Linked DNA regions of Homo sapiens. The protein of the gene in region 1 purifies or fractionates together with the protein of each later gene. This does not show direct contact. Each region holds a gene or a part of one and is shown on either strand. Other genes may lie near its edges.

Region 1 (7,026 bases):
TAATTTAATACTGTCTGTATTGATTCCTGAATTCTTGCTAATGGGGCACAGTCATTTGTGCCTCATTAATACTTCAGCATTTGCTCTTGTTCAATGACAAATTTTATATAGGAAACTATCAAGAAAGGAAGCGCAAAATTCAAGTAAACATTTCTTCTGGAGCCTCTTGCTTAATCTAGCTGATTGGAACTCTGAAGCAAATTGCACCTTGAAAAGAAATACAGTAGATACCACGGTGTCAGGGTAGTAAGGGATTTAGCTACCAATTCACAAAATAGAATTTTACGAATGTAGACAGCAGTCAAACAGCAAAAGCAACCTTAAAGAAGTATTTTGTTTCAAGAACAAAACAATTTCCAGTCCCAAGCTTTGCAACCCCTTAAGTATACTGTCTTGCTCGCCTGCTTGAACTTTAATTCTGATGATCTGCACTGATAAACCTTGCCTTATTTACAGAAGTCTTCTAAAATAAGGACCACTGTGTTAGGATGTGCACTGACTTAATAAGCTTTCTCCAAGTATCAAGTATTCAGTAAAAACGATACAACATTGTCACACATTGTATCGTTTGACAATATCGTATTGGTTTTAAGATTAAACTATATAAAAAAAAGTGAACATAAAAAGGTACAAAAGGAGTCTTTATCACTATTTACCACTTCCAAATGAGAAACGTTTTAATGAAATTCAGCCATACTTCATTTAACATCTGGCGTTTTAGATCAGCAACTTTTAATATTGTGCAACATGATATTTAATAAGCAAGTTTTAATTCCATTCATCGAAGGAGCTGAGTAAGTTATTAAAGTGCCTACACTAAATGTCTTCTCATCATACTTCTTATTTTGTAAACGGGCAAAGAATGCATCGCAGGTACATAGAAAAGTGACTTATAACTGAGAGACCTTGCGGGGCAGGGGCCTGGGCCGCGGGCCGGGGTCAGTCCTCCGGGCCCCATTCTCCAGGTGGCTGGATCGCGCTGCCAGAGGCTTGGGGGGCAGCGCGGGCGGCTCCGACGTGACGGGGATGGAGAGGCTGTGAGGTAGCGGGACGGGGCGCCGCAGAGTCCGCTCGTAGACGCTGTACGGGGGCGGAGTCTTGCTCTCCTTGCGCACTGGCTCCTCCCCGCCGTAGCTCGGCACGGGCACCGGCACTGGCACCGGCAGGGGGGCCGACTGTTCATTCACCTGATTTTCAAAGCCTGAGGTTTCCGACGTGCTGCACCGGCTGAGAGAAGAAATCCCACTGCTGTAGCTGCCCGACAAGACAGGGGAGTTGGAGATGAGTCCTGGCGAGTGGTACTCCACTGGAGAGGGGGTGAAAGACTGCACAGAGCCCTGCTCCGGGGAGAAGGAAACGAGAGGGAGACACAGCATTGAGTCGTGAACGCAGATGCGCTGAAATGTACGCCCCGACGCGGAGGCCCCGGCCCCCAGCACCCCCAAAGCCGGCTGCAGCAGGAGATGCAGCCTTTAAGGAGGTGATTAAGGTAAAAGGCCATTATGGTGGATCCTAATCCAAGCTGACTGGTGTCCTTATAAGAGACATTTGGACACACAGGGAGACGTCAGGAATGCGACACACACAGACCTTGCAGGAAGGGCGGTCTGCAAGCCCAGGAGGGAGGCCTCGGGGAAACCAAGGCTGCCACGCATTGATCCTGGACTTCTACCTGCCAGAATTGAGAAAATACATTCCCAGTGTCTAAGCCACCCAGTTTGTGGTATTTTGTGAGGGAAGCCCGAGCAGACGAATACACTCACACTCAAATTTGAGTGTTGTCCTTTGTAGCACTGAAAATGCACACCAGACGTTTATCTGCGAGGGCCACCAGTCCTCGAGTTCAGTTCACCGCCCAGTTTACTCCTTATCATTTTCAGATAGAGGAGAAAGGAGCTGGGCATGGTGGCTCACGCCTGTAATCCCAATACTTTAGAAGGCCGATGCAGGGATCACTTGAGGCCAGGAGCTTGAGACCAGCCTGGGCAACATGGCAAAACCCCATTTCTACTAAAAATCCAAAGGGTTAGCTGGGCGTGGTGGCTCATGCCTGTAATCCCAGTTCCTCTGGGAGGATCACCTGAACCTTGGGAGGTTGAGACTGCAGTGAGCCGTGGAGCCACCAGTGCACTCCAGCCTGGGCAACACAATGAGACCCTGTCTCAAAAAATAAATAAAGGTATCCACCAAGATAATCTGGAGGCACACATTAGTCCTATAGTTTGGAAGAGAGGGAACTGGCCAAAAACCCCAAAAACCTAAAAACGCCATAAAACCTTTGGGGGCGCTATTCACTTTCCCAGCTCAGCAGGGCATGCTGCAGGCCAGGAGCCAGGGCCGCTGAGCACACTCAGCTCAGAAGACCCAGAGAGCTCAGGAGGAGGAGCAGAGGCACCCGAGGTTCTGCACCTGATTTCTCCAGCCATCACTCCAGACTCCAGACTCCTGAGCTGAACTGGCGAACTGGCAGCCCTCGGGGCTGTAGCCTGTGATGTGAGCTGTTTCCTCAGCAGTTTTTTAAAAACCTAATTTAGTTAATTTTTAACATTTCAAATTTCACATGAAACTCCAGAATTCTGGCAGTTCATAAAGAACTAGGAGTTCTGGCCACAATGGCACACATTCTCTTAATAGAGATAATCTTTAAAAGCTGAGAAGGGCTGTCCCTTTTCACTTTGCCAGTCCCCACTATGCCACGTGGGGACTACACCCGGCCTCCTTCATTTGTGTCAGCTGTCTGGCCCCATTTGGCATCTGAGTTTGTTACTTTCCCAACTAGTATCCCAAGGAAAACGAGTCCTAAGATAGATGCTCTGTGAAAAGAGGGTTCCGCTGGGAAATGCTGCACACTGTATACTCCTTGTGTATATTCAAAACATATTCGCATTTTCAAGGCTTAGAATAAAGGAATACAAATAATTTTGTTCAGTCCAGTGTTTTCCAAACTTACTTGACTATAGACCTTTTCTCCCCCGCTTATTACATAATGTCCTGGAAAACTAGTGTTCTATGGTATACACTTTGAGAAATGCTATCTTCTTAAGCTAACTTGACTTTGGTTTCTCTTTGTAAACAAAATAACGCTGGTAGATACACATCCTGTCATTTAGTAGGAGCCTAACATTAAGGCCAATTAAGAGTTCCCAATTCACTGCTACCTCTGTCAAAAGTTAGACCTGAAATTCAAAATATGGCAGGTCAGCTCAGTCTTCGCTGTAGGGTTAGACCCACAGTTTGATGGCTGGCTGGGGTAAAAAAAAAACCCAAAACCCCACTAAACTCTTATCAGTTAAGGCAGCACACTGCAAGGCTAGTAACATGGTAGCAGTGTGCCCCCTAATGTAACCCAGGAGGTATAACACAAATGTTCGATCTATGTTCTCTTCCTTCAAACCCTACATATAAAGACATGGCTTCGAACTGCATATGGCCAGTAAAAATGTACACAGGTCTGCTGAGAGACAGTATATACCAGCTTGCTAAGACTATTTTATAGCTATTCAAACATTTTTAGCTCTTGGGTTCTTTTTAATGTTTAAGAATTAATCTCTTAAGACTTATTTTCTTACTACCCAACAAAATTTAAGTTGAAAAATACAGATGATAATTCCATAGCAACGTGTGGGAGCTCTGTGTGAGTAAGGGCAAATGTAAAAGTGCGGAAAAGCCATGTTGCTTTCCTTTCTATCACATCGAGGTGACAGGCTATGACTTCCAGAGTGAATGCTGTCACAGGTACTTCATAATAACAGCTGCATTACAGAATGAGAACAAAACGAGCAAATCACTTGCACTTACCCGCGAATTTCTACGTCAGAAATTCTGGCAATGCAAGGGAATCACACTTCTTTCAATTTTCTCCATTTTGCGGGGGGAGGCGGGTTGTTTTCCCGTTTCTCAATTTCTATCAGCAACTATCGTTAGCACCACAGATGCACTGGATCGCAACCTGCCCCTATGTGTTTGTAGAGGCTAATTTGTCTTTTGCACATTAGCTAGAACTAGCTCATCACACAAAGGACATGGAGCGTGTAAATCCTAAGTCACTCAGGTACAAAATCATTCTTTCGACACACTTCATATTTGCCTCTGGTGCAGCAGTTCTGAACACCAATCTCTCACGTACTGACAATCCTTGAAGCCGGTCTGATTCAATTTGGATAAGACTAAATATTATTCTTTATCTTCATGAGGGATTTTTTATGTTTAAAGATGTTAAATAGCCCATGTCTACAAACCAATTCGAATGTCTGACCTTTACAGCTTTCCAGTTTGTTCCCTAGAAATCTTTTAAATCCATATTACTGCCTTGTTTTTCATGATCAAGTATGTATTTCTAATGTAAATGAGAAACTTGGTATAAAATATTAACAGAGAATGTTAGGTTTGGCTTTGACAAAATGGGTTTGGCTGACGATAAAGGCAAAAAGACACAGAATATTTAGTAGATCTTGATACTGATGTTTCTCAATCTAAGTGTGTGTGTGTGTGTTTGATGTACCTTAAACTAAAAGGCCAGGCTGAAAGTTTCCTAGGAGGTACATTAGGACCACATTCCTTTCCTAATTCAGTATATGCACTGACTTCAGTCTGCAAGTTCTCACTGCTACCATTTGGAGAATGAGGCTAATAATCGAAAAACAAATGGCTGCGTTTGTGCAGGAGGCACCCAGAAGGGAAAGTCCAGTGTTGTTTTTCTCAACCAGCTTCCCCTATCCCTGATTGATAAGTTCTTTGCCTGGTCCCTGCAAATTAAAGCACCTTTTGATATATCTGGGATGAGTCTTAGAGAAAAAGAAAACTGGGCCAGTCTCTAGCCTCAGTCGAAAGAAGGGCCTTTACCTTCAATGGAGATCGCCCGGCAGGCGAGGGGGATACTGATGTCGTGTGTCTTGCTGGTGAAGCTGTCAATGGGGAGAGAGATAACATTTCAATTAAGAAAAACCAGACGATTGACTATCTGCACATGCCCTCTGTGTTACAAACCCAAACAGATGATCCAGTGCATAAGGACCTTCTAAGCAAAGGGGGTGGTGAGGATGGGGGAGAAGCTAAATGATGCCTGTCTAGAATGGGTTCTCACAAAGGGTGGCACTGCCAAGATATGGGAGCATCAGTGAAAAGTTATCATGGCATATATGATGCTTTGACTATTGACAGGTTCCCAAACTGATCCAATGTCCTTTCCGTTTCCCCAAAGTCCAGGTGCTTCTGCACTGCTTGATCTGTCTCATAAGGTGCTTTTAGGTGTGAGATGCTAGGGAGCAGTTCTTGGGGAACAGCTGTTGACTTTGGCGTGAGCACCAATGGGAACACCATGGCCACCCCAGCAGCCTGGAACAGGTCTACGGGAACATATTTAATCAGCTCCCCCCAAACAACCCCAGTACTCCCCAAATAGGTAGAAAACCCTTGGCCATGGCCATACAACAGGTGCATGGTTTTCCATTTCTTCCCCTAATGCTTGTACTCAGGTCTTCCCATTATCCCCTGGTGGTGGGTCTCTATGGATTTCATCATCGTGGCCAAGAAGAGTGAACTGTTTGCTTTTTCTCACTAGATTTTCAAGTCCTACACCTGGAACACAGCATGTGTGATAGCACTGTTCCTGTGTGCATGCTTGTATAGCAAATCCAGCTCTCTAAAGCATAGCCCTGTATGGTAAAGGCTGGCGTGACACAGTCAACAGGGTGAGAGTCAGCCACATTTCTCAATTCCACAGAGACGTTTCGGTGAACTCTGGGTATGTCGCTCTGTGATTAGCTGCTACTCTCCCAGCTGTCACAGTGAGGTTTGCAACTCACAACTACTGAAAGGCTGTAAGAAAGAAAGACAGTTACAGAGCCCCACAACAGTGACCACAGATGATGACATAAGAACAGACCATGAGAGCAATCAGTGCAGAAGGGATGGCAGCCCTGCCAGTTAACTTGGGAGGGGTAAGGTCATCTGTGTGCTCTGGGTCCTAAGGGGTCAGTGAGAGTGCTCCATGATCACACTGGTAGTGTGCAGCCTCTCTCTTGCACTCTTGAATGCTGGGGCATGCTGTCAGCACGTGTCACATTCTAATACCAGCCTTAGTTCTCCTATCCTGTTGATCGTGGGTGCTGATTATGGAAGAAAATCACATCTGTATGGAGAAGCTGATCCTGACGGAGAACTATGTTCCTGCCTTAACGGTGGTAGAAAGTTGATTGTTCCCTAGGACCCTCTTCCTCCTGACTCAGGCAGTTGCTGACACCACCATGGTGGCCCCTGCAACCACAGCATATTTGCATCAATATTATTCCTTAAAAAATGCTTTTCAGGTTCTCAACTTTAGGGACACAACCAGGTTTAAATTGGAGACTGCCTGAATATATGTACATCGTGAATGAGATACAAATAGTTTGGCCGATAAGTTTTAGGCCTCTGTACACATACTGATATACTAATGCAGGTGATCAATAAGCTTAAAGTTATTTCTTGTTTTCTTTGAAGACCTCATATGTCTCTCAAAAATTATTGGTGACTTGACTTTTGGCTTTGACAAGTATAGAGTAAACTAGGTGGCACATAGTTTATTGTGTTTTGTGGCAAGGTCTCACTTTGTTGCCCAGGCTAGAGTGCAGTGGCTCAATCTTGGCTCACTGCAACCTCTGCTTCCTGGGCTCAAGCAATTCTCCCACCTAAGCCTCCCAACTAGCTAGGACTAGAGGTGTGTGCCACCATGCCTGGCTAATTTTTGCATTTTTTTTTGTAGAGATGGGGTTTTGCCATGTTGTACAGGCTTCTCTCAAAACTCCTGGGCTCAAGTGATCTGCCTGCCTTGGCCTCCCAAAGTGCTGGGATTACAGGTGTGAACTACCTTATTTGGCCCAGGCTGAAGTGCAGTGGTGCCATCTTGGTTCACTGCAACCTCTGACTTCTGGGCTCAAGCCATCCTCCCAAGTAGCTGGGACTACAGGTGTGTACCACCACACCTGGCTAATTTTTATATTTTTTGTAGAGACGGGGTTTTGTCATGCTGCCCAGGCTGGTCCCAAA
Region 2 (7,026 bases), on another chromosome or scaffold:
CTTCAAGCAATCCTGCCTTGGCCTTTCAAAGCCTTGGGATTACATGCATGAGCCACGCACCCAGCAAGACAGCTTAAATAGAAAACCTTCCTCTATTAAACCAGTATCTGTTTCTCTGTGACTTACCATCGTTAGTGGGCCTCCCAGATGCCTCCAGTATTCCCTTGGTAGGAATTTTTTAAATCCATAGGCCAAAGCGGTACAGAAAAGATGCAGATAACTACAGATTGGTTTTGGCATACTAATAACTCCCTGATTGATTCCACAAACATTTATTTAGCAACTCCTAAGCTGTGTGAAAAAACTAGTTCTGCCTCAGGTTTGGATGTCCACAGAAGGGCCTCTGTGAGCTATCCACAGAGTAGTAACCTGCTCCAAGGAGCAGATGGCACATATCTTGTCCCTGGCCTCCTAGTCCCGGGCTGCACGCCAGCTGATGGAGAGGACCCAGTCATCCAACATGGAGACCCGGCTGGATGCCATGAAGGAGCTGGCCAAGCTCTCTGCCGACGTGACTTTCGCTACTGAGTTCATCAACATGGATGGCATCATTGTGCTGACAAGGCTCGTGGAAAGTGGAACCAAGCTCTTGTCCCAGTGAGTATGACTAAGGTCTCGTTCCAAGGACTTCGACGATTTACTACATCCCACAGGGCATCCTAGTCTCATTTCCCTTGAGTCAAATAAGGAGTTTATTGAATACCACCTGTGTGCAGAGCAGTGTGCCAAGCACTAGAGTCCATACCAAGATATATAATTCCATATTGTGATTCTAAATCGTGTAGTCTATTTGGGCTCTCACAAATTAAATAACAGTACAAAACAGTACTGTGCCAAGTGAGCAGTGAAAATAGGGGCTAGAGAAGTCAGGAGGAGAGCAGTCACGTCGTGACAGACCTGTTAATTGCTGGAAATGTTTGGTTTGATGAGGGTTAGTGAGCAGATGGTCCAGTATCTCCCAGGTGTCTGTTTGTAATCATCCCCTGCTCCTCCCTCTTCAGTCACCTCCCAGCCCATACACACACACACACACACACACACACGCCTTCCTTTGTGTTTACCACAGGTGTCAACCTACCCATTCACCATCTCCCTGCCACACTTTTGCACAGGGAGGAGGAGACCAGAACTTTGTGATACCCACAAGCATCTTCATCATACCCCAGAGTTCACATGCATGCGGTGGGCAGCTGTGCCTTGTGAGCAGCAGTCAGTAAACAGGTGCTTGGAGCCTAACCTGCCAAAGAGGGAGTCAGAAATCTTCTCAGCCCATAGATCAACTATTGAAATTGTTAGCCAAATCGAGTAACTAATCATAGATATTTGTTTTACATATTGGATCTTCCAGCTGTATTGAAGTCCTGAAGCCTTCAGCTGCCATCAGCACTGACATAGTTCTACAGTCTCCCAAGGGTACAGGGTTAGACTGGCCTTAGTTTCACTCTCTTCAGCCTGAGGATAATAATAGCTACCTTGCAGTATTATTGTGAGAAGTATTGTTAATGAGAATGTGTCTGAACATGCTTTGTAAATAGGAATATCATCTGTTAATTCTAGAGCACTGTACAGATGTATAAAGGATTAAATGTATAAGGAGAAGAGAAAAAAGAGAAAACATTTTAATCCTTATTCTCTACCAGCACTAGAATAAGAGCTTTGCATACATCATCATCTTGTCGTCTCCACAACCCTGTGAGGTTAACGCTGTGAGACTAACTTGATTTTACAGAGGAAGAAATTGAATTTTGAAAAGATAAAATTTGCTTGGTTAGTAAGGTGGACAGGAACTGAACCCATCTCTTGCACTCTACTGCCTCTTGGCCCAAAGGTTAACATGGCACTTACACTTCCTTAGGTTCTCCCAACAGGTGTTGGAGTTTGACAAAGGTCCAATGTCTTCTTTGGTCTTGGGAAATAGATAAGTGATTCTGTGTCCCTGGGATGAAGCATATGGAGAAGGAAGATCTAATTACCCAGCAACATTTTTTTTTTTTTTTTTTTTTGCAGCGATAGATACCTGGGCTGAATCTGCTCTACACTGGCTAGGTGTGCACACAGGCACTTACAGTTACAGTTGCATCGACTGATTTCCCATGGGGTGTTCACATTAAAATTCATCTTTTTTGTGGCTGCCCTCACACCTGTGTTTCCCGATCTGAATCTTTGTCTATTTTGTGTGTGTGTTGCACGTGTCTCAGCTACAGTGAGATGCTGGCATTCACCCTGACTGCCTTCCTAGAGCTCATGGACCATGGCATTGTCTCCTGGGACATGGTTTCAATCACCTTTATTAAGCAGGTGAGGCCTCCAACATTCTGTCTTTCTCTCCTCCCTCAGCTGCCAGTTCACAAGGCTTAAGGGGAGATACAGGCAATATCGCCATTCTGGTGAGATCAGCTTTATATTCCCTGGGGCCAGATTTTTCATCCTCAAGCTCTAGTCTTCTGTGGCTTCTGAAAGATTTGCATTTTGTTATATTCTCAGGGCCTGCACTGAGATGGAACTGGACCGTCAGAACTAAATATGATCAAAGTAGAATTAGATTGTCAGTGAGACTGGGGATAAAGCCAGCCAGTCAACCAGTACTAGCCCTGAGTCTTTTGACCGACTTCCTGAGCTCTCTCTTCTTTTTGTATATATATAAAAAAAATTTGCATTTCATTTGTAAATTTGCCTTCTATTTACAAATCTGCAAGGTAGCCTGTTTGGATTGTCAGACTAAGTTCAGTGGGTAGGAGAGGGTACTTCTGGTTTTACCCTCCTTTCTTTTACACAAAGGAGCAGTGTCAATTCAGAATACTGAACTAAAACCAATGAATAATATTGTATCTGCTGCCCTAGAACTTCAGCTATCATTGGCTTAGGACATTGGGACTCCCCGACACTGGACACAAGTGAAATGACCATGTGTCAAGGATATTATAATGGGGACTGAGAAGAAGGATTAGAGTAAAAGGCTTCAAGGTCCTTTCTACCTCTCAAAGTCTAAGTGTGTTTAGGGGGAGTGTGTGTCAGGGGAGGTACATGGAGATAAAATGAGATCCCAGTATCAGTAAAATCCTCTGCTTTTTTATACCCCACTTTCTCAAACTGGAACCCTTATTTTGATAAAAAGAATTAAGCTTTTAGATTTTGAGGAAACACAATTAAGTGGATACTATAATCTGAGATTAAGGTATCCATGCCAAGGGAATCCCTGGCACATTGGCCAGGGTAGCCGTAAACCAGATACCACTATCCACCTAGCAACAGCTGCCCAAATGTGAAGCAGAGAGAGCTTCAAGGGCTAGCATCAGATGCTAAGCTTCTATCTTTCTTGGGCCCTGAGCTTCTCAATTGATGTGCCATCTCTGGGTCTAGATTGCAGGGTATGTGAGCCAGCCCATGGTGGACGTGTCAATCCTTCAGAGGTCCCTGGCCATCCTGGAGAGCATGGTCTTGAACAGCCAGAGTCTGTACCAGAAGATAGCCGAGGAAATCACCGTGGGACAGCTCATCTCACACCTCCAGGTGTGAGTAAAAAACCCTACACCTCCCTCCCTTCACTTGTCTGTCCTCTTTTCTCCTCTTATTTTAAGTCTTCCAATCCTACTCTCCTTTGCTTATATTCCAAGCTGTTGGTTGGCTTCTTCATTCATCACCTCTTCCACACTCCTGCCAGAATTTCTCCCATCATTCAGACTTGATCATGTCATGCTCCTGCCCAAAATCCTCTGTAACTCTCTCTGCCCCTTAGGTTAAAATGAAGATTTTCCCAGTCTTCCCATACCAGGGTGGTACCAGGCAAAATTAGATGCTTTCTCACATGGGCCCAGTAGTCTCTGTACCTATGATAATTATATAAAATACTGGATTTTTATTATCTGTTGCCCATTTTGAACATAGAGCCCCCTTGAAACAGAGACCAATCATTGTTGTATCCCCTGTTTTGATTTAAGTAGAGGCTCAATTAGTGCTTGTTGAATGAATGCTCACTGAACCGACGATGCACTGTGGGTGATTTGTAAGAAATATCACACAGGTGTGAGTTTGGAATATCAGTTCAAATCCAGGCTCTTCTGCATACTAGGTCTCTGCCATCAGCAAGTAACCTAGTCTCTTCTGGCCTCAGTTTCTTCATCTCTAGAATAGGTTAATCACCTTCACCTCTCACACTGTGAGGATCAAAGGAGATTTTAAAAAGGTCCAGCATAGAGGCCAACCTGGGTTAGGTATTCAGTAAATTCAGGGGCTTTTTTCCTTTGTTTGTTTGTTAAGACTCTTATCACATCCTAAAACATTTTACCAGATACTGAGACCATATGACAAATGAACCCATTGGAGCAATGTTTCTCCCGTCTCCGCTGTTTTTACCTCACTTCCAACCAACCTACACCATGTAAGGAAGCTGGACTTTGCAAAACAGTGGTGGCACTCCTGTTGATTCTCTTCTGACTGTTGTTCACTTCTGTTTTTTAGACATTGTCAGAATGTTGCCAGAATCCCCCACCAGTTCGAGGGGAAGTCATAGCTCCCAGATTTGGGAGTTTATAGTGGCCCTGTCTTCACTCAGCTATGCTCCCAACTTGTTTTTCCCCACTAATCCAAGTAAAAAGAAAGCACAATTATTTCTTTGCAACTCTGATTTCTCCTTGTCACTTTTAAGGAATTTTCAGCCTCAGCTTTCTTTGCTTTTCTTTTTTGAGACAGGGTCTCACTCTGCCGTCCAAGCTGGAGCGCAGTGGCATGATCATAACTCACTGCAGGCTCAAGCGATCCTCCCCATCTCAGCCTCCCGAGTAGCTGGAATCACAGGCACACTCCACAACACCTGGCTAGTTTTTTTTTTTTTTTTATTTTTGTAGAGACAGGGTCTCGCTGTGTTGTCCAGGCTGGTCTCAAACTGTTGGGCTCAAGCAGTCCTCCCACCCCAGCCTCCTGAGTAGCTGGGACTACAGGTGTGAGTCACCATGCCTGGTCTAGCCTCAGCTTTCATACCCAGCGAGCCACCAAGGTTGATTAAGGTGAGAGGGACATTATAAACTCCAGATAGAGAATTCTGATTTTCCTGTAACCTCACATCTACTTCTCTGGTTTTTTTTTTTGTCTCTGAATTCAGAGTGGCCCCAGTTGCCTCCCTAGGGATGATAGGGGAACATGGCATTTCATAGGAGCCAATACTTTCAGCCCACAGCTGTCACCAGAACTTATATGCTTTCCTTTTTGGGCTGAGGGATACTTAGTGCCCTCTGTTAGACTCCCTGGGTACCATGTGACTAACCAGGAAGCCCATCAGACCCTCTGGAAAGACAGCCACAGAATGCACCCAAGACATGGCAGGTGGAGATGTCAAGTACCAGGATTGTAAGATTCCAGAGAATGATTGTAGTTATTTTGTTTGTTCATAATAAAATAAGTTTATAGTCAAAGACTTTAAAAATACAGAAAAACGCAAAATTATTTGCCCATTATCTCACCTCCAGACATACCCACTGTTAAACATTAAATTGAATGTCCCTTCAGTATTTTTATGCATATTTTTAACAAAATCGGGATCTCATTATATATACTATGTGTACCTTGATTTTTTTTAACTGAATAATACACCTTGAACATTTCTCCATGTCAAAGATTTTTCTAAAAGGGTAGTTCTAAGTCTTTTTTGCAACCTAGACACCTTTGAAAATCTGGTAACAAGTATATACTCTCACCAGTTTGGAAAAAATACCACTTAGTTGGCAAACTACATAGAATAATTTCTGTATCATTCCTGGGGTTCACAAATACTCTAAGCTCATCCCTGAATCCCAGGTTAAGAATCTTTACCCTAAAACATGACTTTTAATAACTACTTAAGATTCTCATATGTATAAATGTTGGCTAATGTGACCATTTGGATTACTTTCCATTCTTTTTTAAGTAGTACTTTAATGAAACGCCTTGTCAGTAAATCTTGCATAGCTCTCTGATTACTGTCTTAGGATAAATTCCTATTAGTGAAATTGCTGGGTCAAGAGCATGCCCACTTTGAATGCTTTTGAGACTGAGCTCCAGATCATTATTTGCTTATAATCTGTGAGTGATTGTTTTAAACCATTTCTAAGCATCATCTTGCTGTTCAGTCTTCTAATCTCCCTCTCTCTTCTTTCTCCATTGACACAGCTCCAACCAGGAGATTCAGACCTACGCCATTGCACTGATTAATGCACTTTTTCTGAAGGCTCCTGAGGACAAACGACAGGTCTGTGGCTGCCTTTTCACATTTTTCATCTGGGCTCTTCTGAGATAATTCTCACCCCATGCACTCTTTGCTATGCAGAGAGCACAAATCCAGCAATTTTCCCAAGAGTTCTTCCTCTTAGCTGTCTGGTCTGGAGCCCAGGAGGGTGGCTTTGCTAAGGAAGACCCAGGGAAGACCTATGAGGGGAAACCAGCTGGGTCTTAGATGAGAGCAGGGCCCTTCAAACTTTTTCCTCTAAAGGGCCAGAGAATAAATATGTTTGACTTTATGGGCCATATGGTCTATGTGATAGCTACTCAACCTTGCCATTGTAGCCAAAAGCAGCCTCGGCCAGTAGGTAAATGAATGGGTATGGCTGTCTTCCAATAAAATCTTATTTACAAAAACAGGCAACAGGCCTAATATGGCCATAGTTTGCCAACTCCTGGGTTACAGAATCAAGAATAAGGAAGAGGAGACCCTGTGGCTACCCTGAGTCCAAGGAGTCCAATATGAATGGGATTTCACACTAAATCTTAGGTTTAAAGGTTCTCTGATGGAGATTCTAAACATCTTCCTTCCCCTGTTCATTAACTGTGACATTATGCAGATAGCTCTGCCTCTGTGAACCTTAGTTTCCTCACCTGTCACATGGGAGCAACAACATCTGCCTTGTTTACCTCACAAGGATGTCTGAGGAAAAACAAGATCCCTGTTTCACAAATAAGGAAACTAAGAATCAGCTGGGTGGTGGAACAAACACTGACCTAAGAGCCGAGGGGCCTGGGACTAAGTATTCTCCCTGCTGCTGGCTGGACAAGTGTTTG

The links. The genes of interacting proteins can lie anywhere in the genome.
Region 2: the proteins of DOCK4 (region 1) and ELMO2 purify together in Homo sapiens (affinity purification with mass spectrometry; 2 studies listed by BioGRID and IntAct, with this or other methods). This does not show direct contact.

Annotation. Positions count from the first base shown.
Region 1 is NC_000007.14:111,727,384-111,734,409, forward strand, and holds part of DOCK4 (dedicator of cytokinesis protein 4), read right to left. Parts: intron 4,905-7,026; coding exon 4,843-4,904; intron 1,338-4,842; coding exon 891-1,337; 3' UTR 1-890. UniProt on the Homo sapiens protein: Functions as a guanine nucleotide exchange factor (GEF) that promotes the exchange of GDP to GTP, converting inactive GDP-bound small GTPases into their active GTP-bound form. Involved in regulation of adherens junction between cells.
Region 2 is NC_000020.11:46,382,610-46,389,635, reverse strand, and holds part of ELMO2 (engulfment and cell motility protein 2), read left to right. Parts: intron 1-415; coding exon 416-597; intron 598-1,845; exon of another isoform or gene 1,846-1,936; intron 1,937-2,198; coding exon 2,199-2,298; intron 2,299-3,360; coding exon 3,361-3,512; intron 3,513-6,141; coding exon 6,142-6,220; intron 6,221-7,026. UniProt on the Homo sapiens protein: Involved in cytoskeletal rearrangements required for phagocytosis of apoptotic cells and cell motility. Acts in association with DOCK1 and CRK. Was initially proposed to be required in complex with DOCK1 to activate Rac Rho small GTPases.